Linked DNA regions of Homo sapiens. The protein of the gene in region 3 purifies or fractionates together with the protein of the main gene of each other region. This does not show direct contact. Each region holds a gene or a part of one and is shown on either strand. Other genes may lie near its edges.

Region 1 (2,205 bases), on a different chromosome or scaffold from region 3:
GGGGGTTTTGCCATGTTGGCCAGGCTGGTCTTGAACTCCTGACCTCAGGTGATCCGCCTGCCCTGGCCTCCCAAAGTGCTGGGATTACAGGCATGAGCCACTGCGCCCAGCCTTGTAATTTACCTTTGATGGTGACCTGAAATGCAGTATGATCCTATATGTGGCACGTAGTAATGTTCAGTGTTTGCTGAATTAATTCTGGGCAGCACTAAGAAATCCCTCTTTCCCAGTCATATTCTATAACACATTTCCCATTTGCCACAAAACCTGCAGCTTTTTGGTCCAGGTAATGACATTTGCTGCCATTTTGATGATTTAAAAATGGTCGTGGGAGTTGAACATAGTCATGAATTCAGGATTCCTGAGCATGTAGACAGTCATCCCAGTGGAAAGACACGTTCACTTAAGAGAAGTTTAAGTTAGAGGAAACAGTTTATGCTAAAAAAATTTTTAGAAAAGTCCTTGAGAATTTTTGATTTAGTCTTGACCTCATGAAGCTGGTAGTTATGATGTGCATAGTTTGTATCACCGTTTATGAAGATGGAGAATCTAGTCAGCACGTGTTGGTTTATTCTAGGAATTTTTAGGGAACACTTCTGTTGCTGGCACCAGGTGATGAATATGGTTAAAAAAAGACTCGTTTCTGCCTAAACATAGGGAAGAAGAGCAAATTAAAAGGAGTAATTAAAACTGATAAAAGCTCAAGTTACCTTTGTGATGATGAGGCGGGCAGTTAACGCGAAAGGGTTGGGAAAGGCTTCCTGGAGGGACTAGGGGGCGGTCTAAGCACAGGGAACCTAACCGGGGACTCCAGTGTGGCACAGCGGCAAGGTATGTGCTGGGCAAAATGATAGGTGTCTTGGGAGACCAGGCAAAGAGAGCTGGATTAGGAGCCGTTAAGTATATATTTTTCTTCTTTTTAAATAAAATAATGCACTGGGTGAACATGTAAACGCTAAGTTGAAAATCTGCCTTTCCCAGGTAACCCTTGTTAATCTTTCTACAACTTCATTTCGTACAAACCTGAAAAACACACTGATTTTGTCTTTAAATGGGCACACGCTGCTTACACTCCTCGGCGCCTAGCCTTTCTGAAGCCCCACGCGGCCGTCCCTCCAGCATTGAAGGCTGGGGCAGCCCAGCTCCCCTCCAGCGCCCTTACAGCCAGACCGCGGCGGGGTCGGGCCGCGCACGCGCAGGGCGGACGGCCGGATCTGGGGCGCCGCTGCTCCGGGTGGTCGGAGGTAGGAGTCCCATCTTGGGTCCAGGGCCGGTAGAGCCCCTTACCGGGGGTAGGGAGACTGCGCACCCGCTAGAGCCAACTGTCAGGGCCTGCAGACGTCGGGTGACGTCACTGTTACAAAATTGGCGGTCACATCGTCTTAAGGGCCGGTGGCAGCGGCTGCGCGAACGGGAGTTGGCTGCCGGGAATCAGTGCTCACTTCCTTCTGAATTGGGCGTGTGCAGTCGGTTCCTAGGGAAGTGCTCTGCTGCAGCCACCAGATTTAACGGATGCTGCTCTCTAGCACTTAACATAGAAGCTAAACTACCTGGCGTTAAAATTAATTCCATGAGCATAAGGACATTTGTCCTATCCCCTATTCTGCTGTTGAATTAATGACTGGAAAACATTGCGCGGAGGTATTTGGGAGTAGTATGGCTTTTTTTTTTTTTTTTTTTTTAACAGCAAATGGTATAAATCTCAGGTACAATTCAGTATCTTCTTCACCAGTTGTTTTTTTTCAGCATGTATTATTACTACCACTAACGGCCTCTGTTGAGCCCTTCCTTGCTATGTAAGCAGCCATATTTAATTCTCAGAACAATGTAATGAGGGTGCGCAAATGCACATGAAGAAACAGGTTTCCAGACGTGAGGCACCTAACTCAGTCCAACTTGCACGAAGCTCGCATTGAAAACCAGATGTGACTCCGAAGCTAGGTTTTTTTTCTCTCTTGCCTCACTCTCAATATTGCTGTCAGTTCCTCCTCAATCTTTAGGTTTGGGCAGGGACAAAGAATACATGGATTGTTCCTCCACATGCTGCAAACACATTCACCTAAGCAGAGCACAGGTAGTGAGATGAGTAGAGAGAACTGAATTAGAGGATTCTGGATGTCAGTCTTTGCTGTCACTTCTTTTGGCTTGTGCTAGAACAGTGGTTCTTACAAGTGTCACGTGATAGACACATTCTAAGGTCCTATC
Region 2 (3,500 bases), on a different chromosome or scaffold from region 3:
CAGGCACCCGCCACCACGCCCAGCTAATTTTTTTTTTGTATTTTAAGTAGAGATGGTGTTTCACCATGTTGGCCAGGCTGGTCTTGAACTCCTGACCTCAGGTGATCCAACCACCTCGGCCTCCCAAAGTGCTGGGATTACAGGCGTGAGCCACCGTGTCTGGCAAAATTAGTAGATTTTAAACACAACAGTATTTGCTAGATCATTAACCTAAGGAAGCAGTCAATGTGAGGGCACAAAAGAAAAAAGGTCAACCCCCAATCTCTTCGATTTAACTGTGGCTTGGTATGCCAGATATTTATAGAAAGAGTGGCTCTAAAGATAAAGAACATCTGTTCCAATTATAGACCTACATTATATAAAACAATCTAATATAGCATTGATTCACACTAATTCAAACAATGGAATAATGAAATACTAAAAATAAAACTATTTTTTACTTGGCCTCAGATTTTCCATATTAGGCTACTATTTTGAAAATGCAAAGAAAAATACTTAAAAGGAAAACTCCAGGATTGATGTCAATACTTGTAAAGAATAAAAAGTTAAATTTAAGATCCTTTCTTGACTGCTGGTTATATTAACAAACTATGACTGATGGACTATCTTTCTCAACAAATATCAAAATTTCCTTTAAGCTACTTGACTGTCACTTTAAAAGAATGAGTTTTGAGTAATACCTAATGAAAAAGTCAATTATTGGCCGGGCGCAGTGGTTCACACCTCTAATCCTAGCACTTTGGGAGGCCGAGGTGGGTGGATCACGAGGTCAGGAGATCGAGACCAGCCTGGCCAACATGGTGAAACCCCGTCTCTACTAGAATACAAAAAATTAGGCAGGTGCAGCGGTACGCGCCTGTAGTACCAGCTACTCAGGAGGCTGAGACAGGAGAATCGCTTGAACCCAGGAGGTGGAGGTTGCAGTGAGCTGAGATCATGCCATTGCACTCCAGCCTGGGCAACAGAGAGAGACTCCATCTCAAACAAACAAACAAAAAAAGTCAACTATTTTAAAAATAGATACTCACTTAAAAACATCATAAAGCCACATTCCACCAGTTATAAACACAAGCAGTCATCATTTTCTAAAAACTGAGTAAGAAATTCTATGTTGGTATGTTTACTCTTAAAAGGTGAAGATTTACCAAGATTTAATAATCTAACACTGGAATTTTCCTTTAAAATGTGAGGGAATATGTGGCGATGTTTACCATATATTAACAGACATTCATTTAGACACATTTTGACTCACTTCCTTGTCCTTTACATAGACTGAGAAGCCAGTTAACTCCCTAACAGACAAGAAAGAAAAACTGTAAATGTTATAGGTTTATGTTTGAGGCACACATCTTTGCTCCTAGCTGTAAGAGCACTACAGAATGAAGGATATGTACTGCTGACAAATGCAGACTCATACAGGTGCTCTAAGAATGATGGCAATGAAAATCAAGCAGTGGATGCTATAAAGCTGAGATGCTTTAACATTACTATTTTCAAAAAAAAGTCCTACAAATATCCACAGGTCATTATGAAGGAGATTATGGTATATTTCTAATAAAGTAAGGAATAGTATCCTTCAAAGTTTATAATTAAAATGGCTTCTTGGCCGGGCGTGGTGGCTCATGCCTGTAATCCCAGCACTTTGGGAGGCCAAGGCAGGCGGATCACCTAAGGTCAGATCGAGACCATCCTGGCCAACATGGTGAAACCCCGTCTCCACTAAAATGCAAAAAAGTAGCTGGGCGTGGTGGCACACGCCTGTAGTCCCAGCTACTCGGGAGGCTGAGGTAGGGGAATCGCTTGAACCCGGGAGGTGGAGGTTGCAGTGAGCCAAGATTGTGCCACTGCACTCCAGCCTGGCAACACAGCAAGACTCCACCTCACAAAAAAAAAAAAAAAAAAAAAAAAGGCTTCTTACAAAAGGAAGATACCTTGAGCATTGCAGCAGACATTCTTCATCTGTGCAACAAGATTATTCTTGGAGTAAGAGAAGACTTTCATAGGTTACCAGAACAGGATTTAGTATACAGCATCCAGGCTTATGATGAGAGAGGTTAATTCATAATAAACTTTCAAGTGTTTTTAATAGCAGCCACCATCATACTGAAGAAATAGCTTCAAAAACTCAGAAAATAGTAAATAATACCTTAATATGAGGAGGTGCTTAAACATGTTCTCATCAAGTTTGGTTACTTTTAAAGTTCAGCAAGACTTGGATGAAGCAGCACTAACTAAAATACACCAGGCCCCTACTGCTTAGATTTCGTATCTTTTAAAGGCAGGAGGATGCACCTGTCATTTTACCTATAAAATTCCTTATTGTTAAGCACAAGTTGCACAAAACAGTTTTTCAATAAAATGAGCAAGGCAGGAGACATGACAGTATTATTAGAATATTAAATACTGATATATTCTCACATTCATGAATTTATTTGGTATTTATAAAAGTAACAGAAAAAATACTATTCTTCTCATTTTATAAATAAAAAAGTAGTAAAGCTCACAAATTGGTAACTTGCCCAAGTTCACACTGCACACAGCTTGTATGCACCTAAACTCAAACTAGACACCAGATCTTTTTTTGTTTGTTTTTTTGTTTTTTTTGAGATGGAGTTTCACTCTTGTTGCCCAGGCTGGAGTGCAATGGCACCACGTCGGCTCACCGCAACCTCTGCCTCCTGGGTTCAAGCGATTCTCCTGCCTCAGCCTCCAGAGTAGCTGAGATTACAGGCATGCGCCACCACACCCGGCTAATTTTATATTTTTAGTAGAGACGGGGTTTCTCCATGTTGGTCAAGCTGGTCTCGAACTCCCAACCTCAGATGATTCACCCACCTCGGCCTCCCAAAGTGCTGGGATTACAGGCATGAGCCACCATGCCCAGCCGACACCAGATCTTTTGATTTTAGTTAAAGGTGTTTTCTTCACTATAATATGCTGCCAAATCAAACACAAAGACATATTCTACACATAAATAAGGATAAAAGAATCTTACAGTATTAATTTTCAAAACAAAGGAATAAAACCACCCCCATTACCAAATGTGTACACCTATGGAAGGCAAAAAATGAAGTTCTAAAAAAGTATTTTTGCCACCTGGAAGTGTTTTGCAAATAAATCATTATTTCCTATAATAAGAAATATCAAAGTCTTCTCTGCCTATGGAGTAGCCATTCTTTATTCCTTTATTTTATTAATAAACTCACTTTCACTTAAAAACAAAAACAAACACAAGGAGGCCAGGTGCAGTGGCTCCTGCCTGTAATCCCAGCAATTTGGGAGGCTAAGGGGGGAGGACAACTTGAGCCCAGAAGTTTGGGACCAACCTGGGCAAATGGTGGAGACCATCTCTATTTAAAAAAAAGAAAAAAAAAATTGGCCGGGCATGGTGGCTCCCACCTGTAACCCCAGCACTCTGTGAGGCCGAGGTGGGTGGATCACCTGAAGTCGGGAGTTCAAGACCAGCCTGACCAACATGGAGAAACCCAGTCTCTACTAAA
Region 3 (4,175 bases):
GGGCGATAAACACTTTCTTTTGTGGGGGGGGAAAGGCATTTTCATACACCACGCTTAATTTTATTTAGATTTAATAGCGATATCAGGGGCACTTCAAAGAAAGTTCTTTTTTCGCCCTTCTCCTAAGAATGCGAATCTGCTAGCAAAATCGCCTCGTGCTATTTTATGGCAAGGAAAATTAAAGGCCTTCTCCCCCCTCCTTCCCTACACACACTTTAGGGAGGAACACACACACACACACACACGCATGCACAAACACACGCACGCAGGCGCGAGCACACGCACACAGGCGCACAGAATAAACACCTCTATCCTCCATCACCTCTAACTTCCAACTTCTAATTGCAAGATAGATTTCAGCCTCTGTGGGGATCAGGACGATCTAAACATTTTAACTAAGATTATTGGGATAAATATTTCATAAAGAGCAGGGCAGATATTAAATTACTCCTATTGATTTTAGTATCACAGCCCAATTCCATTCCTCGGCCTCTTCAGTTTAATTGATCTCTTAAGGAGGCCAACTTCGCACCCGCAGAGGGTCTGGGTCTTGGACCGGGTGGCCCAGGGCAAGGTGTGCGGCCCGGCGGGTGCGCCCTCTTCGTGCGTGTCTTCTCGGGGTTCCCAGCCGCCTCGCAAGTCGCTCCGGTTACTGGGCTCAACCGATGTGCTCCCCCATAAAGTGGCTGAGTGACTGTGACTCCTTGGAGCCCACGCCGGCCGGTGAGAACCGGGAACCCCAGGCAGTGGGGAAGGGGAACAATTGTGAACGCCCTAGTGACGGAGGAGTGAGCAAGCGCCCAGGTCTCTCGAGGAGAACCCTAACTTCGAGGTTCCCCGTCTGCTTTACCCTCCAAGAAAATCCCAGGGCCGGCTAACTTGGGCGCCGCTAGCGGAGAACGGAGTGTTCACCCCGGAGCCGAAGTGCAGTAGACACTTAGCGACTTTCCGTGGCGAGTCTAGGGTCTTTGCCTGGCGACCTCATTGTCTGAGCGCCCCGTACCGCTCACCGCCCACCTCCCCGCCCCCTGCCCACCCGGTGGGTCTCGCTCCAGTTGGGGGTGGGGAGTTGGGAACAGTGTGAATGGGAAGGGGGTGAACAAAGCCAAGCTCCCGCCATTCTCCTCCGCCTGCACCCTCTCCAGCTCGATGCGCCCGGAGGCCGGGGCGCGCCCCCAGCGCACTGACGCCGGACCCCGAGGAGAGGCGGGCGCAGGGGACCCCAGAGCTGGGGTAGTGCGGGTTCGTGGCGGGGGCTTCGGCAGCCAGGACCCCGGACCACCTTAAGAGCGAGCCCCGCCCCGAGCCCGGAACTTGGGCGGCGCTGATTGGTGCAAATGTAATGGCTGAAATTGATTGCTGAAATGCAAAACTTGTTGCTGCTTCTCCCGGCGCTGGGCGAGAGGCAGACACAGAGAGGGGAGCCGAGACCCTCGGAACGCCCCACGCAGAGCCCCCCCGCTAGTCGGGAGAGGGGTGCGCAGACCCCCCAGAGCTGCCCCCGCGCCCCCCTCCCCCCATTCCGGGCTCTGAGAGCGCAGCGGGAACGCCTTAGCCTGCTCGCCCGGCGTGGCCCCCCGACCCGCGTACGCCCCCCTCCCTCAGGTCCGAGAGGGACTCGCGAAGCACCTCAGCGCGGAGGCAGGGAACCGGAGCCTTGGAGCGACCCAACCCCTCGTCTCGCTGCCCTCCCGCGCCTGCAACGGTGCGCGGAGACTCCGGCGAACTCAGACACCCAACGGCGGAGAACAGAAGCGGCAGGCGGCGGACGTGGCCGCGAAGCTGCGCGCCGAACGCAGCGCACCCGCTGCCGAGCAGAGGAGCCGCGCCTTTCCCCGACCCTCGGCTCCAGCCCCCGGCGCCTGCCGCCTCGCAGCCCCTCTGCGTCCTCGGCTCGGGGGCCGGCACCGGCGATGCCGAGCGGAGCCTCCAGTCCTCCGACCCGCTGAAGAAGCAGCAGCCGCTCGCCCGGAGCCTACGGGGATTGTGCGAGCGGATCGTGCTCGGTGGAGGCTCGGGCTGCGGGGCGCGGGGACTCCGGGGGGCGGGGGGAGGGACCGCTCTGTCGGTGCCCGGCGCCAGCCGCGGCTTTGAAGGGTCTCCCTCCCCTGCCCTTAGCAGCTCTGCCACGGACTCCGGGAGGCTGCGGGCGGCGTCCTGAGGGCTCCCCAGCAGACCCAATCGGACTTGAGAAGGTGATCGCTCTGCTCTCCCAACCCCCTTCCCTCCCCATTCCCCCCACTTAACTTTTTGTCTCCGTTCATCCGCGGCTTCGTCCCCTCCCCGCAGACCCACCCGCGGCTGTGACAACCGCCCGGGGCATGGGCCCCCCAACACGGCTCCTAGAGGCCCCGCGGCCTCGCAAGATGTGAGAGGCCCTCCCCGGGCAGAATCGGAGCTTCAGGAGAGGAGCTAATACCCCGCCCCCCGTCCCTCACATCAGGCGGGGTGGAGGTGCGCGCTGAGCCCCCGCGGTGCTGAGCGTCCCGGAGCGCCCAATCCTGGGCTGGAACGAGTAGCTGGCCGGAGGCGCGCCGCGGAGAGCCGGCTGTCATGCCCTATTGATCCCCCTCTGCCCCCCGCCAAGTATGTTTGGGCTGGACCAATTCGAGCCCCAGGTCAACAGCAGGAACGCTGGCCAGGGCGAGAGGAACTTTAACGAGACCGGACTGAGCATGAACACCCACTTTAAGGCCCCGGCTTTCCACACTGGGGGGCCCCCTGGCCCTGTGGATCCTGCTATGAGCGCGCTGGGCGAACCCCCGATCTTGGGCATGAACATGGAGCCCTACGGCTTCCACGCGCGCGGCCACTCGGAGTTGCACGCAGGGGGGCTGCAAGCGCAGCCTGTGCACGGCTTCTTTGGCGGCCAGCAGCCTCACCACGGCCACCCGGGAAGTCATCATCCCCACCAGCATCACCCCCACTTTGGGGGCAACTTCGGTGGCCCGGACCCCGGGGCCTCGTGCCTGCACGGGGGTCGCCTGCTCGGCTACGGCGGCGCAGCCGGAGGCCTGGGCAGCCAGCCGCCCTTCGCCGAGGGCTATGAGCACATGGCGGAGAGCCAGGGGCCTGAGAGCTTCGGCCCGCAGCGACCGGGGAACCTCCCGGACTTCCACAGTTCAGGTGCCTCCAGCCACGCCGTGCCGGCCCCATGCCTGCCGCTGGACCAGAGCCCTAACCGAGCCGCCTCCTTCCACGGCCTGCCGTCCTCCAGCGGCTCCGATTCCCACAGTCTGGAGCCACGGAGGGTGACGAACCAAGGAGCCGTCGACTCGCTGGAATACAATTACCCGGGCGAGGCGCCCTCGGGACATTTTGACATGTTTTCGCCCTCTGACTCCGAAGGGCAGCTGCCTCATTATGCAGCGGGTCGCCAGGTTCCTGGGGGCGCTTTCCCGGGCGCCTCGGCCATGCCCAGAGCTGCGGGCATGGTGGGCTTGTCCAAAATGCACGCCCAGCCACCGCAGCAGCAGCCCCAGCAGCAGCAGCAGCCCCAGCAGCAGCAGCAGCAGCATGGTGTGTTCTTTGAGAGGTTCAGTGGGGCCAGAAAGATGCCTGTGGGTCTGGAGCCCTCAGTGGGCTCCAGGCACCCGTTAATGCAGCCTCCCCAGCAGGCCCCGCCACCCCCTCAGCAGCAGCCCCCGCAGCAGCCGCCACAGCAGCAGCCGCCGCCGCCACCCGGGCTTCTAGTCCGACAAAATTCGTGCCCGCCTGCGCTCCCTCGGCCCCAGCAGGGCGAGGCGGGCACGCCCAGCGGCGGCCTGCAGGACGGAGGCCCCATGCTGCCCAGCCAGCACGCGCAATTCGAGTATCCCATCCACCGGCTGGAGAACCGGAGCATGCACCCTTATTCCGAGCCTGTTTTCAGCATGCAGCATCCTCCTCCGCAGCAGGCGCCCAACCAGCGGCTGCAGCATTTCGACGCGCCCCCCTACATGAACGTGGCCAAGAGGCCGCGCTTCGACTTTCCGGGCAGCGCGGGAGTGGACCGCTGCGCTTCGTGGAACGGCAGCATGCACAACGGCGCTCTGGATAATCACCTCTCCCCTTCCGCCTACCCAGGCCTACCCGGCGAGTTCACACCGCCTGTGCCCGACAGCTTCCCTTCGGGGCCGCCCCTGCAGCATCCGGCCCCGGACCACCAGTCCCTGCAACAGCAGCAGCAGCAGCAG
Region 4 (3,002 bases), on a different chromosome or scaffold from region 3:
GCCAACATGACGAAAGCCCATCTCTACTAAAGATACGAAAATTAGCCGGGCATGGTGGTGCATGCCTGTAATCTCAGCTACTCGGGAGGCTGAGGCAGGGGAATCGCTTTAACCTGGGAGGTGGAGGTTGCGGTGAGCTAAGATCGTGCCATTGCACTCCAGCCTGGGCCACAGAGCAAGACTCCATCTCAAAAAATAATAAAGGCTGTAGGAACCCAGAAAGGGGCTGGGGGTATTAGGTTTTTCTAGACCCTCAATACTCAAAGTGTTATCTGAGGGCCAGCGCACCTGGGAGCTTGTTAAAAATGTAGAATTTCCACCCTGCTCCACACCTCCTGGATACTCAGCCTTTGGGGTTGGGGCCCGGGAACTCCTGGTCATAGAAGCACCATGGAAGGTGACATCTGCTGAGCATGAACCACATGACAAAGACTATCACCTCAGAGCTGGCAAATAAATTGGGCATCCCTGTCCCAAAGATCAGGCAATTGAGGAACAAAGGTAATGTAACCTGGAGAGGGTCACAGGCAGAAAGTGCCAGGTTGTATTGGCATAAGGGGAGTAGGGGCTGAAGTCATCCTAACAAGCTCTAGGCTGTGTCCCTCAGCCTGGCACAGGCTATTCCCCCTCATGCTGGGGACAGAGTGGCCAGTGGCAGTAAGTCCTGCCTGGGAGTTCTGGTGTAGACCCTGGTCAGTCCCCAGAAGGAAGATATTGGACCTGAGGGTGTGATCCCTGGAGATAGGCCAGTCCTCTCGCCATGGTCACTGGCCCAGGAATGCACCCAGGTGGCTGGGCCTGGCCCGAGTGTGCCCAGCTCTGGGCAGTGCTGCCATTCCCTGACCAGCAGGCCTGCTGCCCGCTTCTTCCTACAGGAAGGGAAGCCAAAACCATCGACCAACTTCTGGCTGATGAAAGCCTGAAGAAGCAGAATGAATACGTGGAGGTAGGACCAGTGTGAAGGGGGCCATCCCCAAGAAAGAGCTGGTGCCGCAGGTCTTGCAGGAAGGTTTCCACCCACCCCTCCTGAGGGGTGAAGTGTTGGGCGGCGGGGGGCAGCTGCCTGCCACCCTTTCTTCCAGGTCTTGATACAGGCCCAGGTCTGGGGCTAGAGCTGGCCATATGCCAATGTAGGGAGACTAGAGGAGTAAGGAGTTAGGTCTCTGGAGTCAAACACAGCACGATGTACCTTTATGCTTGGAAGAGGGCTGGAAGTGGGTAACACAGCTTTCTATGGTGTCAGATGGCTGAGGACCCAGGGTGGGACAGGGGCAGGGAGGAGCGCCATGGCATGTCGGGACCGTTGACAGATATTACTTGCAGATACTGTCAGAGGGAGTTTACTTTGCTATGACTATGCAGCTGGATCTTTTCCCCCAAGCTGGGAAAGCCCTGATTATCCAGGTTCCTAGCTGAGAGCCAATGATGGCCCAAGCATTTTGCGAGATACCTCACTACAAACCCTGCAGATAGCCCTATAAAACTACAAACCCTGCAGATAGCCCTATAAAGTAAAACACCTCTTACATATGAGGGTAGTGAGGCACACAGTAAAACCGCTAGCCCAGGACAATCATTTGGGAAAATGAGTCTGAACTCCCAAGTTCATGTGTTGCTCATTATACTCAAGCTGCCTGGGGTCCATTTCCCGGAAAATGACATAGCTCCGCAGCCTCCTTGAAGAAGCCGGCTCCTCACTTCCGAGAAGCTGAGTATCAGACTCAAATAGACGAGGGACTACTCAATGCTTTCTGGATGAAGTGGCCCATCACAGCAGTCCCGAGGATGGTGTTCAGGGTCACCAAACTTCAGAGATCTTAGAAGTGAATCATTGGCTATAAGAAGCAGAGTCTCCCCAACTTGTAGAAGGAGAAGCTTAGGCCCAGAGAAGGGTAATTTCTTGGCTGAGGTTGCATGGTCAGCAAAACTGCTTCTCTCACTGGGTCCTTAACATTCCCAGGAATGTTCCCAAGGAATGTTCTATGCCCCGCACAGTGCATGGGTACCCTGTTTTGCAAGAACAGCCCCCCTGGCATAGCAGGGTGGGTGCCAGCCAGGCATGGGGCTGAGACAGCATCTCCCAGCCCCTGGCGACAGCTTAGGTGTGTTGGGTATGTGTCTGAAGCCTATTTCAAGACCTAGGGAGACAGGTGTGTTGGGTTATGTCTGAAGCCTATTTCAAGACCTAGGGAGATGCCTGGGTATTGGGCTCAGCTGGTCTGGGTTGAGAAGTGCCAGACGCTGTCTAGCCATGGGATCCTGGACTAAAGACTAGGCCATTCCTGAGCCCCTACTTCCCCATGTGAAAAGGGAACTGCCTATTTCGTAAGGCTGGTATGAAGTGTGAGGCTCCTGGCACACAGCAAGTGATGGGGATGGTAGTGGTGTCAGGCCATCACCTACCTTCAGTATGGAAGGAAACTGGTTTTAATTCCTGATGAGCTCTCCTTGCTCCCCCGCCCCCCCCCCCACCCACCCACCCACCCACAGAAGTGCATTCACCTGAACCGTGACATCCTGAAGACGGAGCTGGGCCTGGTGGAACAGGACATCATCGAGATTCCCCAGCTGTTCTGCTTGGAGAAGCTGACTAACATCCCCTCTGACCAGCAGCCCAAGAGGTCCTTTGCGAGGCCATACTTCCCTGACCTGGTGAGGGGCGACTGCGCATCCCTGGGTGGGGGAGGGCCTGTCCAGGCAACACTGGCTGCCACCTCACTGTGCTGGACTGCAGATATGGTGGACAGCAGATAACGGTACCTATGAGGAAATGGGAGGGAGACCCCTTCTCCCCCATCTCGGTTAGGGACGCCCCACCCAGAGAGCAAGTGTACAGGGCCTGAAGGCTTGGAGGTTCCCCAGGCAGTTACTATGGGCCAGGCCCTGGGCCAGGTGCTTTAGGAGCCTCAGTGAGCTGCGCCCCCAGTCTAAAAGGGTGAACCTGTGAGGCCCACTTCGGATGGGGTGCTATGCAACCCAGAGTCGAGGTTGCCGCGCATCTG
Region 5 (3,500 bases), on a different chromosome or scaffold from region 3:
TAATTCTGTCTATCACATCTAGTCCAAATTTCTTGCCTCAATTTTTGAGGCCTTCCAAAAATGCAGTCCCCACTGATCACATTGTATCTCATTATTTTCTATCCCATGTTCTCTTCATGCCTCCAAAATCTAACAGCCCATCAGAACTTAATCTGTATCCTCTCTGAATGCCTACAGAGCCAGTACCACCCCGTCTAGCATGTAATTGCTCTCCTAACTTTCAAATGTATGCTAACTATATGCCTAATTATAGAAGCTCATTAACCAACTAAAGTGAGTAAGGCACTGTTCTGGATACTATGGGGTAATCAAGGATAAATAAAGATAATGTCTGGTCTCAAATGTGTAGGGCAGGGACGACACCACCATATCTACCTCACCCAGCACAAACAGCACAATACTCAATTGCAGTTGTTCAGATGAGACACTCTGCTCTGGGCTATCAGGAAAACTTCATAGAGGAGTTGACATTTGAGCCAGATCTTGAAGGTTGAGAATATTTTCATGTTAAGAAGAGGGCTTCACAGGTGAAAAGAACGGGAGAAATCAGAGGCAGAAAGGAGAAAAAGGCAAAGTTGTATGCTTCATGCAGGTAGGGACTGTGTTACCCACATCTTCAATCTCTCAGGGCCCTTAATATAGTCATTGGCACACAGTCCACACTCAGTGCATACGCACTGGGTTGAATTTGTTATACTTGATTTTAAGTGGTTTCATCTAGATCCTAAGTGAATAATGTGCTACAAGTGAGGTGGAGAGCTATATATTTATACGCCTGGGTTAAGTGGCTCACATTTACACCACTAACACCAAAATTGGAAGGGTAATTTAAAAATGACTTTAATGGCTTTTTCCCAGGCAGTACAGCTATATGTAAAATAGCTGGTGCAGTTGGATCTAGTCCCTGATTGCTCATATATTACCCATGAAATAAGTAGAAGATTAATATCCTCTTTGACTCCAGTTTTGTAAAATTATGATATTTATAACCTTTTAAATACAAAAAGTCCATTACATCCATACTATATTTAGATGCAATCTTAACCACATCTTTAGATGTAATTTGTTTTGTGATGGTAACTGATGTGATTTTTACTCATAATTTTACTTACAGTTTTTACATTATGTAGAATTTCAAAGAGAAACCACGTTTTACTCTGCTAATGTAGCAACAACTGGAGTTCAAAAGAGGTGTCATTTTTAATTCTCGGTCCCAAACTTTCAGGAAAAAGCTTCAGAACAAAGAGCTGCAAATTAGTAGTTACAGAAACTCCCATATTATAAACACTCAGTATTTCCTTTCCTACCATGTGTGGGCAAACCAGCATGCACAATTTGTAGGCTAATGTTAACTGTTCCAAGAGTGGAGTCACTAGTCTATTTTGTATGTGACATGGGAAAAAGATCAGTCTCACTGTGTAGTAGATGTGAGACTTGGAAAAGGAACTGAGAATTCTAAATAAAACAGCCTGCTAGCAAAACCACGCCACCTTACCACTTGAGCTGAAGTCCACAGGCCCGATCCACTTGAAGGCTGGTTTACGACCTCGCTCTTCTGTTACATGCACTTTCTTTATCAGAGCCAAGCTGGTCAGAACATTGGCTATGTCATAGAGGCGTCGTACCTTTGCTTGAAGATATAAAACACGATTACGGTCATGCTGCCTGTGACACCATGACAGTTTAGTTTATGTGACAGGTAACTTTTCTCGGCTGCCATATAAACCTCAGGTGGAAAGCAGCAGGTTGGGATGAGGAGACCAGTGGCTCTGTCATAAAATCACCCAGGATTTATGTACCTGCAGTATCTGAAGGCTAAGGGAAGGTCAGTGTGTCCTTCCATTTCCACAACTTCACACCTCTTACAAGAGGCACCTGGCGACAAACAGGGAGCACTGTGATTGCAAAAACACCAAGGGAGGGAATGGGCTGTAATTAAAAGCTTAGTAAATGTAATTCTGACATGGCACGTCAAAAGCATGCCCTGAGTTTCTCCAAGCAGGAGACTGTGGCGCCAGCTCCACAAGGCAGCTGGTCTGTGAAAATGACAAAGATTCCCCAGAGCTTCCTGCCAGGCTGCACTCCTGGGCACACAGGATGCTCAAGGTCAACAGTACAACTGTACTAAAGACAGGCAGCTCCTCACCTGAAATTGTAGCATTCTAGCCACCCAGTGAGAAGGGGTTGGATGGGCCTTGCCTGAATCTTAAGTGGCTTTGGGAGAAACACTTAAATATATACAAAGTACAGGAAATACTCAGAAGGGGTGGTAGCACATGAGACAGGCACGATAATGACCACAAAGTATTTTCTATTCAAGAAATTGATTTACAGGTAGGAAACCCACTTGACCTCAGTGTTAAGATCAAGCAAAGGAGTTTGAATTATCATCCAGAAATAGGAAGCATTCACCCTGGATGCAGCTTTCTTCTTCCCAATCCTGATTTTATCTAGCTATTTCACCCATAGGGTGACTGTAATTTCAGCTGGAAACAAAAAATAGCCAGATGTTGCAGCTCATGGTTTCCCAGGGCTTACAGGCTACCAGCAGCCCAGGGCATTTGGCTCAGTATCCAAGATGGACAGAAAAGGAGGATGCACTGGGTGTGATACTTGGAAACTCTCTCCCTGTCCATGTCCCACCACCCTTACCCTGGCCATTCTTCTGGTTCTTACCTGTAGACAATTTTCATCTCCACCCTTCAGAAGAGTATGCAGGGGGTGGGGAAAAAAGGGGAAAGAAAACTCAGACATTCTGTCTTGGATGCAGCAATACTAAAGAGAAATGCAAAATAATTCACACCCTCCCTGACCGGAGTTCTCAGGATAGTGTTCTGTTTTTCACTCTACTGAAACCACCGAGGAAAAGGCACTGACAGGACTCTAAGCTGAATTCTAGTAGGTGACTAACTTACCTCTCACAGCACCAAAAACCTTGATGAATGCAGGAAAGGAGTATGTATGTCAAAAACAATATATATATTTTTAATCTTGGAAGCAGAAAATATCAACACATGAAATCCCACCCTTTATGTGCTAGTAAGTTGATGGAGGTGAAGATTCTTACTTTTAAATTTACTATGGTCTGGGGCATCTTGGCTTTCTTCTATCAGTATTTTGGCAGCCACATCCAGAGTGACAATCTTGGTTTTGGAGACGAGGAACAGCATGACAAACTTCTGGCTCATAATTCTCAGAGACTTGTCTTTTCTACTGTTTGCAGATGCTACACAAGGAATGAAACAAAAGCATCAAAGTATATGATTTTCTACAAGAAAGACTATACTTGCAGCTTGCCAAAATGATCTAGCCCTATCAGCAGATGGAAAGATCACCCTTGTCATTGGCAGAAGCTTACTGGATACACATCACAGAAGTCAGCTCAGGAAGAAATGAGGCAGATTTTCTTGTGGCTTGTAAAATTACTCTACAGTAGGCATAAACTCTGAGATGCATATTTTAAACCACTCAATGCTTTACACTTATACTTCCTATAATAG
Region 6 (3,500 bases), on a different chromosome or scaffold from region 3:
TGTCTCAAAAAACAAAACAAAACAAAATGATATAACTTTTAGAAAAATCGCAAGAGAAAATCTTGAGGATCTAGAACTAGGCAAAGACACCAAAATGGAACTTTATGAAAATGTAGCACTAGCCTAGGGTGAGTGTGGATGTATCACTATTTGTGGATGTAGAAACAGGAGTAGATGAGGGTGAGTCACTTGTCCTGCCTGCCACAGAGCGAATCAGTGGAAGGGCTAGGCTTTGGCTCACAGCCCACACACCTAGCACTGGGATGCACCGAGGTCACCACCACGCGCCTTTGTCTTCCCTGCACACCAGATGCAGCCAAACACCAAAGCCCAGGTCAGTGGCACCGGAACAACACATCAGTTTAGAGGATTTCTGATGTTATTCCACTTTGGTTATTGGCAGTAGAGATGGTTCTATCTAATGACTAAGAACTGGTATGTAGGATCATGATAACTTACAATAATGCCACCTTTTTCTCTGAAAGTCTTCATTTTCTCTGCTCTAGATGGTAAAAGCAATCCAGGTTTTGCGCATTCATCTTCTTGAGCTGGAAAAGGTTAACGAACTCTGCAAAGATTTCTGCAGTCGATACATTGCTTGTCTGAAAACAAAAATGAACAGTGAAACTCTGTTGAGTGGAGAGCCTGGAAGCCCGTACTCACCAGTGCAGTCCCAGGTACTTACATTTGGGGGTCTCGCTTTCCCTCTCTGCCACTGTGAACATCTGCATTGAGTCATGAGACCACCAGCTCTTTCAGAATTCACTGGGTCATCTTTATGACTTTCTACAAGAAGGACCCTCTAGGTCTCTGACCCCAGCCTGGTTTGGGAATGAACTCCCTCAGATTATGAAGTGAGTCCTCAATCTGCATACTGGGCCCCCGGTCCCATGTTTATGGAAGGCACAATTCCATTCATTTCTTTCTTTTATTTCTTCTGAAAATATTTTACTTATTCTTTTGAAAAATTGTGTAAAATACACATAATATAAAATTTACCATCTTAGCTATTTTAAAATTTACAGTTCAATGGTGTTAAGTTTATTCACATTGTTGGGCAACCATCAACACCATCCATCTCCAGAACTTTCTCATCTTCTCAAACTCAAACTCTGACCCCATTAAACACTCATTCCGGATTCCCCCTCCCCTAGCCCCTGGAACCCACCGTTCTACTGTCTGTCTCTGTGAATTCGATGACTCCAGGTCTCTCATGTTAAGCGGAATCGTACAGTGTTTGTCCTTCTGGATCCTTTGCTTGTTTCATTGTGCAGAATGCCTGGAGGGTTCATCCATGCGGAAGCACTATTGTGTTTTAGCCATTCTGATGATATGTAGTGATATTAATATTTCTTTGTGGTTTTAATTTTCATTTCCCTGATGGCTAATAATGTTGAACATTATTATACCCTCTGTGTATTTTCTTTGATAAAATGTCTGCTGCTTATGTCTTTTGCCTTTTTTTTTTTTTTTTTTTTGAGACAGAGTCTCGCTCCATCACCCAGGCTGGAGTGCAGTGGCGCGATCTCGGCTTACTGCAAACTCCGCCTCCTGGGTTCATGCCATTCTCCTGCCTCACCCTCCTGAGTAGCTGGGACTACAGGTGCCTGCCACCACACCCGGCTAATTTTTTGTATTTTTAGTAGAGACGGGGTTTCACCGTATTAGCCAGGATGGTCTCGATCTCCTGACCTCGTGATCCGCCCGCCTTGGCCTCCCAAAGTGCTGGGATTACAAGCATGAGCTACCACGCCTGGCCGTCTTTTGCGCATTTTTTAGTTGGATTTTTTTTTAACTTCTGAGTGTTGAGAGTTCTTTGCTTATTGTAGATACTAGTTCTCTGTTGGATATGTGGTTTGCAAGTGTTTTCTCCAAGTCTATAGTAGCTAAGTATTTTTCTCATCCTCTTAACAGGTCTTTTTCAGAGCCAGCCTTTTTAATTTTAATAAAGTTCAATTTATTAGGTTTTCCTTTTATGGATCATTCTTTTGGTGTCAAGTCTAAGAACTCTTTGCCTAACCCTAGGTCCCAAAGACTTCGTCTTAAGTTTTTTCCTAAAAGTTTTTAAATAGAGACAAGGTCTCACTATGTTGCCCAGGCTTGTCCCAAACTCCTGGGCTCAAGTGTGAACCACCATGCCTGGCCTCAAAAGTTTTATAGTTGTCCATTTTGCATTTAAATCCGTGATCCATTTTGAGTGGATTTCTCTATAGAATAACTCTCAAAGCTGGGCACATTGTTTCCTCCCACCCTGTGATTCCTTTTCAAAATTGTTTAGCTGTTCTGGTTCCTTTGCCTGTCCACATAAATTTTAGAATGCTCTTGTCTAGAGCTACAAAAACATCTTGCTTAGATTTTGATAGGAATTGTATTATACCTGTATATCAATCTGGGGAGAATTGACATCTTTACTGCATTAAGTCTTCCAGTCCACAGGTATGGCATGTCTCTCCATTGATTGACAACTCTGATTTCATTCATCAGTGCTTTGTAGTTTTTGACACATAAGTTGTGTACATGCGTTTTTAGAATTATACCCAAGCATTTCCTTTCCTGGCCTGTGCCATCTCGAATAAGAGTGGCAAGAGCAGACATCCTTGCCTTGTCACCGCCTTAGGGGACACCTTTCAGTCGCTCACTGTCGATGATGTTGGTTGCAGGTTTCTTTCTAGATGCTCTTTATCAAGTTAAGGAGGTTATCCTATATTGCTTTTTTTCTGAGAGATTTTATTTTGTTCAATTTTGTTAAATGCTTTTCCAGCATTGATTGATATGATTATGTGATTTTTCTTCTTTAGCCTGTTAATAATGGACATTACATGGATTGGTTTTTTGAATATTGAACAAGCCTTCTATTCCTGGAATAAACTCCACTTGGCCATGGCACATAATTCTTTTCATATGTATTCTTGAATTCTATTGGCTAATATTTTGTTCAGCATTTTTGTCTATATTTGTAAGGGATATTGGTGTATAGTTTTGTTTTTCATACTGTCTTTGGTTTTGGTATCAAAATACACAAACTTACATAAAATGGATTGGGAAGTATTCCCTCCTCTTATTTTTTTCTGGAGATTATGTAGACTTGGTGTTATTTCTTAAATGTTTGAGAAATAGAATTGATCTATTTCACCTAAGATGTTAAATTTAGGAGTTTAGAGTTGGTCTAGTATTCTCTTCATAGCCTTTTGGTGTTAGCAGGGTCTATAGTGATCTCTTCCTGTTTTATTTCTGATATTGATCTTTTGTGTCTCTATTTTTTTTTTAGTCAGTCTTTCTAGAGGTTTATGTAATTTTCAAAGAACAGTATTTTGTTTTATTGATTTTTTTGGTTGTTTTTCTGTTTTCAGTTTCATTGATTTCACCTTGATCTTTATTATTTCCTTTCTTCTGCTTTCGGTTCATGATGTTCCTCTTTTTCTAAGATCTTAAGGTGGAAGCTGGGATGATTGATTTGACTAGCTTAACTTTTATTACAGCCTAATTAATGTGGCAGGCTT
Region 7 (3,500 bases), on a different chromosome or scaffold from region 3:
TATTAGTCACGTTACTAAAGTGTTTTCCGGTGTTTTTCATCAAATGAGGAAATGTGTAAAATGCTTCATCTTAGTTTTGTCTCCAGTGGCTCTGATGAAAGAATGTCCCAGGAGATTCCTCCTAATTAAATGCTGACTGAGGAATCTGAGGAGGGGGGGAAGGGGTGTCAGGAGTGGGAGGCCATTAATGACACGTTGGAAGACAAACAGGATGTTGATTCACCTGTAAAGATCTCCAAGGCCTGACCTCAGAGTTGAGATTAAGGAAAGAATATTCCTCGAGTTGGACTTAAGCATGGATCTGGTGGAAGAGTCCCTGCCTGGATTATTAGACTTGTGTGGAGTGAGCACCTGGGCTTGCAGAGTGTGGGGGTCTGGAGAGGAGTTGGGTGGGGAGATTTAAGGGGGAGGAGTTCCCAAGAAACCACAGAAGCTTTGGGTGCCTGAGAGGTTGGGAGAGCACCCTGCTAAAGCATCCTATCTGGTAGGGAGGGGAGCTCTTGACAGACGGGTTGTTAGGGAGGGTGGTGAAAGCCACGCACATCAAGGGGCTGGCTTGATTGCCCTCTGGCCCCACATCTAAGCTTCTGGGCTGTGACTGCCCCCAACCAAGTCCTCAGAGCCCAGCTTGGGACCCACCACCCGCCATACTCCACGCTCCCAAGCCCTTACTCTGCTGTTCCAAGGGCCGACCTGCTGCCACAAAGTTCTCTTTCTAGACAGCCCGGTGTGAATTCTCACTTCCTCCTGGGACTTCCTCCAGCAGGACTGTGGCTGTGGTGAGCATTTCAGCATCTGCTCATCTGCTGTTCTGTCATCTTTCTCTTCCTTGGTGTCTTCGAGGGCAGGCCAGGTGGAATACGGCTTCCCAAAGACTCGATTCATTTTGGTTAGGTCTCTTGTATTGCATGGTCCCCGGCCCATAGGCATTGTTGAAAACAAAGTCGAGTTTGTTGTTTCCAGCTAAAGCAGCCCCTGCTTTAGTGTGGAGATACTTGAGGAGTTAAAAGGAAACAGGAAATACTACTGCTTTATGGTTGGAAACCACTCAGATGGAGGAGAATTTGGGGAGGCTTCGGTTCCTGCAGCTGAGGCAGCCTTGGAGAAAACTGCACGTGAACTTTTGCCCTTTGAACAGGGCCGTTGTCCCGGCTTGAGGGTTCCAGATGTGGTGGCATCAGATGGGTCTTTGAGGGGTGGGGCAGTCAGGGTGCCTCTAACAGTGTACTGGGTGTTGGCAAGACCTCGGGGGTGGAAAGTTATGGAAGGAATTGTTCAGACAGGGCCCAGTGATGGGGTGTGGGCTAGAGTACCGTCTTTGAAGCCGCTTGGCAAGAGAAGTGGGGATCACGTCTAGTGGAGATGGCAGATGATGTTCTGTGTAGCCAGCACTGGTGAGAGCTATGGTGGCCTCAGTTTGAGGCCGTTAGTGGGTGTCTGCGACGCTGATGGACTTTGTTTCACGCTTCAGTTGAGGATGTGGCTCTGAGCACGATCTTCGCTCTGACCACAAGTCATCTTCTATTCTGGACCTCTGCGATGGTCCCTGCGGTGCTGGGGGCTCCCCGCTCCTTCCCCACTGCAGCAGGTGCTGGTCCTCAGCAAACCTGTGCTCACCTCTTTATCAGGTGCCTCACCTGAAGCCCTTTAGACCTTAGGCCACGAGTCAGTTCCATAAATTCCTGAGAAAAGGACTCGACTCTGGTGATGAAATGGAACGTTTCTGATGGGTTCAGTCCTACCTAGGAAGAATGAAAGAAAACAGTTTTGAGGCTTTCTGAGAAGAGCTTGTTTCGGGGCACCTGACATGGGCCCGCGGTCTTCGGCATTCTCGCCTCCAGACTTCTGCGGGTGGCTGGGAGGAAATGCTGTCGCTGCAGGGCAGTTCCTCTTTCTGGCCCTGCAGATACAGCCTTCAGTGGCTGTCGTCCAGCAGGGCAGTGACTAGTCTTGGTTTAGAGCAGGAGTCAGAAAGCTGGTCCACCTGCCTGTTTTTGCAAGTAAAGTTTTACAGGAATGCAGAGATGCCCATTTGCTTACGGATTGTGTGTGGCCGTTTTTGCTCTGAAAGGTCACGGAGTGAGGTCTAAAGCCTCGCCAGGGCTGTGGCCGTGATGGGGGCGCCTGCTGCCTGGTCTCGCCCCGGCCCTGTCGTTAACCACCAGGCATCCCAGGGACTCCTTTTCAGACACTTGTAGGCACTTTGGTTCTTTTAGCAGCCCCCCTCCACGCCCCAGGTAAGCAGTCCCCAGGCATGGTCTTTAAAGCCTGGGGAAGAACCTGCCTGCCTGGCGCCATGGGAGGGGTCCTTGTAGCAAAGGTGCCAGCAAGCCATCTCTCTCCCAGGACATGCTTGTTCTCCCTGGGCGTCAACTCGGCAGTTCTCCATGGACTGCAGAATGTCTAGAACATTCTGGCCTGGGGTTGATGTGACAGAGCATCTTCCTTGGAGTTGGGGAGCCTGGGTTGGAATCTGCCCACCTCTGGCCTGCCTTATGACTTGGGGTGATTTCGTGCCCCTGTGAGCTGTGCTTTCTTCCTCTGTAAAGTCCTTACTTTACTGTGACGTCCTCTCCTGAAGATGACAAATGTGATGCCCCCGCCCCGTACCTGGTGCCAGGTCAGTGCAGTCAGGAGAGGTTGTGCCTGGCGGTCTTCATTTCATGTTTGTACTTGGTTTTTATTATTAAATAAATAAATAAATAAATATATATATATATATATTTATTTATTTATTTATTTATTTGAGACGGAGTCTTGCTCTGTCCCCCAGGCTGGAGTGTGGTGGGGTGATCTCGGCTCACTGCAACCTCTGCCTCCTGGGTTCAAGCATTTCTCCTGCCCCACCCTCCCAAGTAGCTGGGATTACAGGCACGAGCCACCATGTCTGGCTGATTTTTGTATAGTCAGTAGAGAAGGGGTTTTGCCATGTTGGCCAGGCTGGTCTCGAACTCCTGACCTCAGGTCATCCGCCCTCCTTGGCCTCCCAAAGTGCTGGGATTACAGGTGTGAGTGTACTTTACTTTTAGGAAGGATATGCTAAGAACGCTTTTCCCCTCCCGCAGCCACACTTAATTTCTGTTAATGTCGACCTCTGGCCACACTCAGCCCTGTCAGCCTCGGGTGATGCACCGGAGGTCCCTGAAGGCAGCATGTATGGCCAGGAGTGGCTCGCCCTGCCAGTCCCCCTGCTGCCACCCAGAGCTCTGGCTGACCCTAGCAGCACAGGCCCCCGCTGAGTGGGTCTCCACCTCTGGGGACTGGACCCTGCACTGTGGGGAGGGCAGGGCTTCCTGGGCAGCCCCCGAGTTTTCTTGCAAGAAACCTGACACCCCTGCTCCTGAGAGGGCTCCAGTTCCTGCCGAGCAGAGCAGGACTCTCTGCAGCGACCTCGGCTTGGCAAGACCCCCCGTGGTTCACCTGAAGCATGTTTCTTCCCCGAGAAGCCGCAGGACCTCTTGTGAGGGGCCAGGTCGTGAGTCCACACACGTCTGCTTCTC

Evidence for each region.
Region 1: the proteins of MN1 (region 3) and SMU1 purify together in Homo sapiens (affinity purification with mass spectrometry, with the first as the bait; one large-scale study listed by BioGRID). This does not show direct contact.
Region 2: the proteins of MN1 (region 3) and ANAPC7 purify together in Homo sapiens (affinity purification with mass spectrometry, with the first as the bait; one large-scale study listed by BioGRID). This does not show direct contact.
Region 4: the proteins of MN1 (region 3) and PADI6 purify together in Homo sapiens (affinity purification with mass spectrometry; one large-scale study listed by BioGRID and IntAct). This does not show direct contact.
Region 5: the proteins of MN1 (region 3) and E2F7 purify together in Homo sapiens (affinity purification with mass spectrometry, with the first as the bait; one large-scale study listed by BioGRID). This does not show direct contact.
Region 6: the proteins of MN1 (region 3) and PKNOX1 purify together in Homo sapiens (affinity purification with western blotting; one study listed by BioGRID). This does not show direct contact.
Region 7: the proteins of MN1 (region 3) and KCTD5 purify together in Homo sapiens (affinity purification with mass spectrometry, with the first as the bait; one large-scale study listed by BioGRID). This does not show direct contact.

The regions. Positions count from the first base shown.
Region 1 is NC_000009.12:33,043,470-33,045,674, reverse strand, and holds part of SMU1 (WD40 repeat-containing protein SMU1), read left to right. Parts: 3' UTR 1-2,205. UniProt on the Homo sapiens protein: Involved in pre-mRNA splicing as a component of the spliceosome. Regulates alternative splicing of the HSPG2 pre-mRNA. Required for normal accumulation of IK.
Region 2 is NC_000012.12:110,390,209-110,393,708, forward strand, and holds part of ANAPC7 (anaphase-promoting complex subunit 7), read right to left. Parts: intron 1-3,500. UniProt on the Homo sapiens protein: Component of the anaphase promoting complex/cyclosome (APC/C), a cell cycle-regulated E3 ubiquitin ligase that controls progression through mitosis and the G1 phase of the cell cycle.
Region 3 is NC_000022.11:27,798,957-27,803,131, reverse strand, and holds the start of MN1 (transcriptional activator MN1), read left to right. Parts: upstream 1-1,375; 5' UTR 1,376-2,588; coding exon 2,589-4,175. UniProt on the Homo sapiens protein: Transcriptional activator which specifically regulates expression of TBX22 in the posterior region of the developing palate. Required during later stages of palate development for growth and medial fusion of the palatal shelves.
Region 4 is NC_000001.11:17,396,196-17,399,197, forward strand, and holds part of PADI6 (inactive protein-arginine deiminase type-6), read left to right. Parts: intron 1-875; coding exon 876-946; intron 947-2,490; coding exon 2,491-2,652; intron 2,653-3,002. UniProt on the Homo sapiens protein: Structural constituent of cytoplasmic lattices, which plays a key role in early embryonic development. Cytoplasmic lattices consist in fibrous structures found in the cytoplasm of oocytes and preimplantation embryos.
Region 5 is NC_000012.12:77,041,570-77,045,069, forward strand, and holds part of E2F7 (transcription factor E2F7), read right to left. Parts: intron 3,227-3,500; coding exon 3,068-3,226; intron 1,631-3,067; coding exon 1,496-1,630; intron 1-1,495.
Region 6 is NC_000021.9:43,012,562-43,016,061, forward strand, and holds part of PKNOX1 (homeobox protein PKNOX1), read left to right. Parts: intron 1-506; coding exon 507-677; intron 678-3,500. UniProt on the Homo sapiens protein: Activates transcription in the presence of PBX1A and HOXA1.
Region 7 is NC_000016.10:2,685,523-2,689,022, forward strand, and holds part of KCTD5 (BTB/POZ domain-containing protein KCTD5), read left to right. Parts: intron 1-3,500. UniProt on the Homo sapiens protein: Its interaction with CUL3 suggests that it may act as a substrate adapter in some E3 ligase complex. Does not affect the function of Kv channel Kv2.1/KCNB1, Kv1.2/KCNA2, Kv4.2/KCND2 and Kv3.4/KCNC4.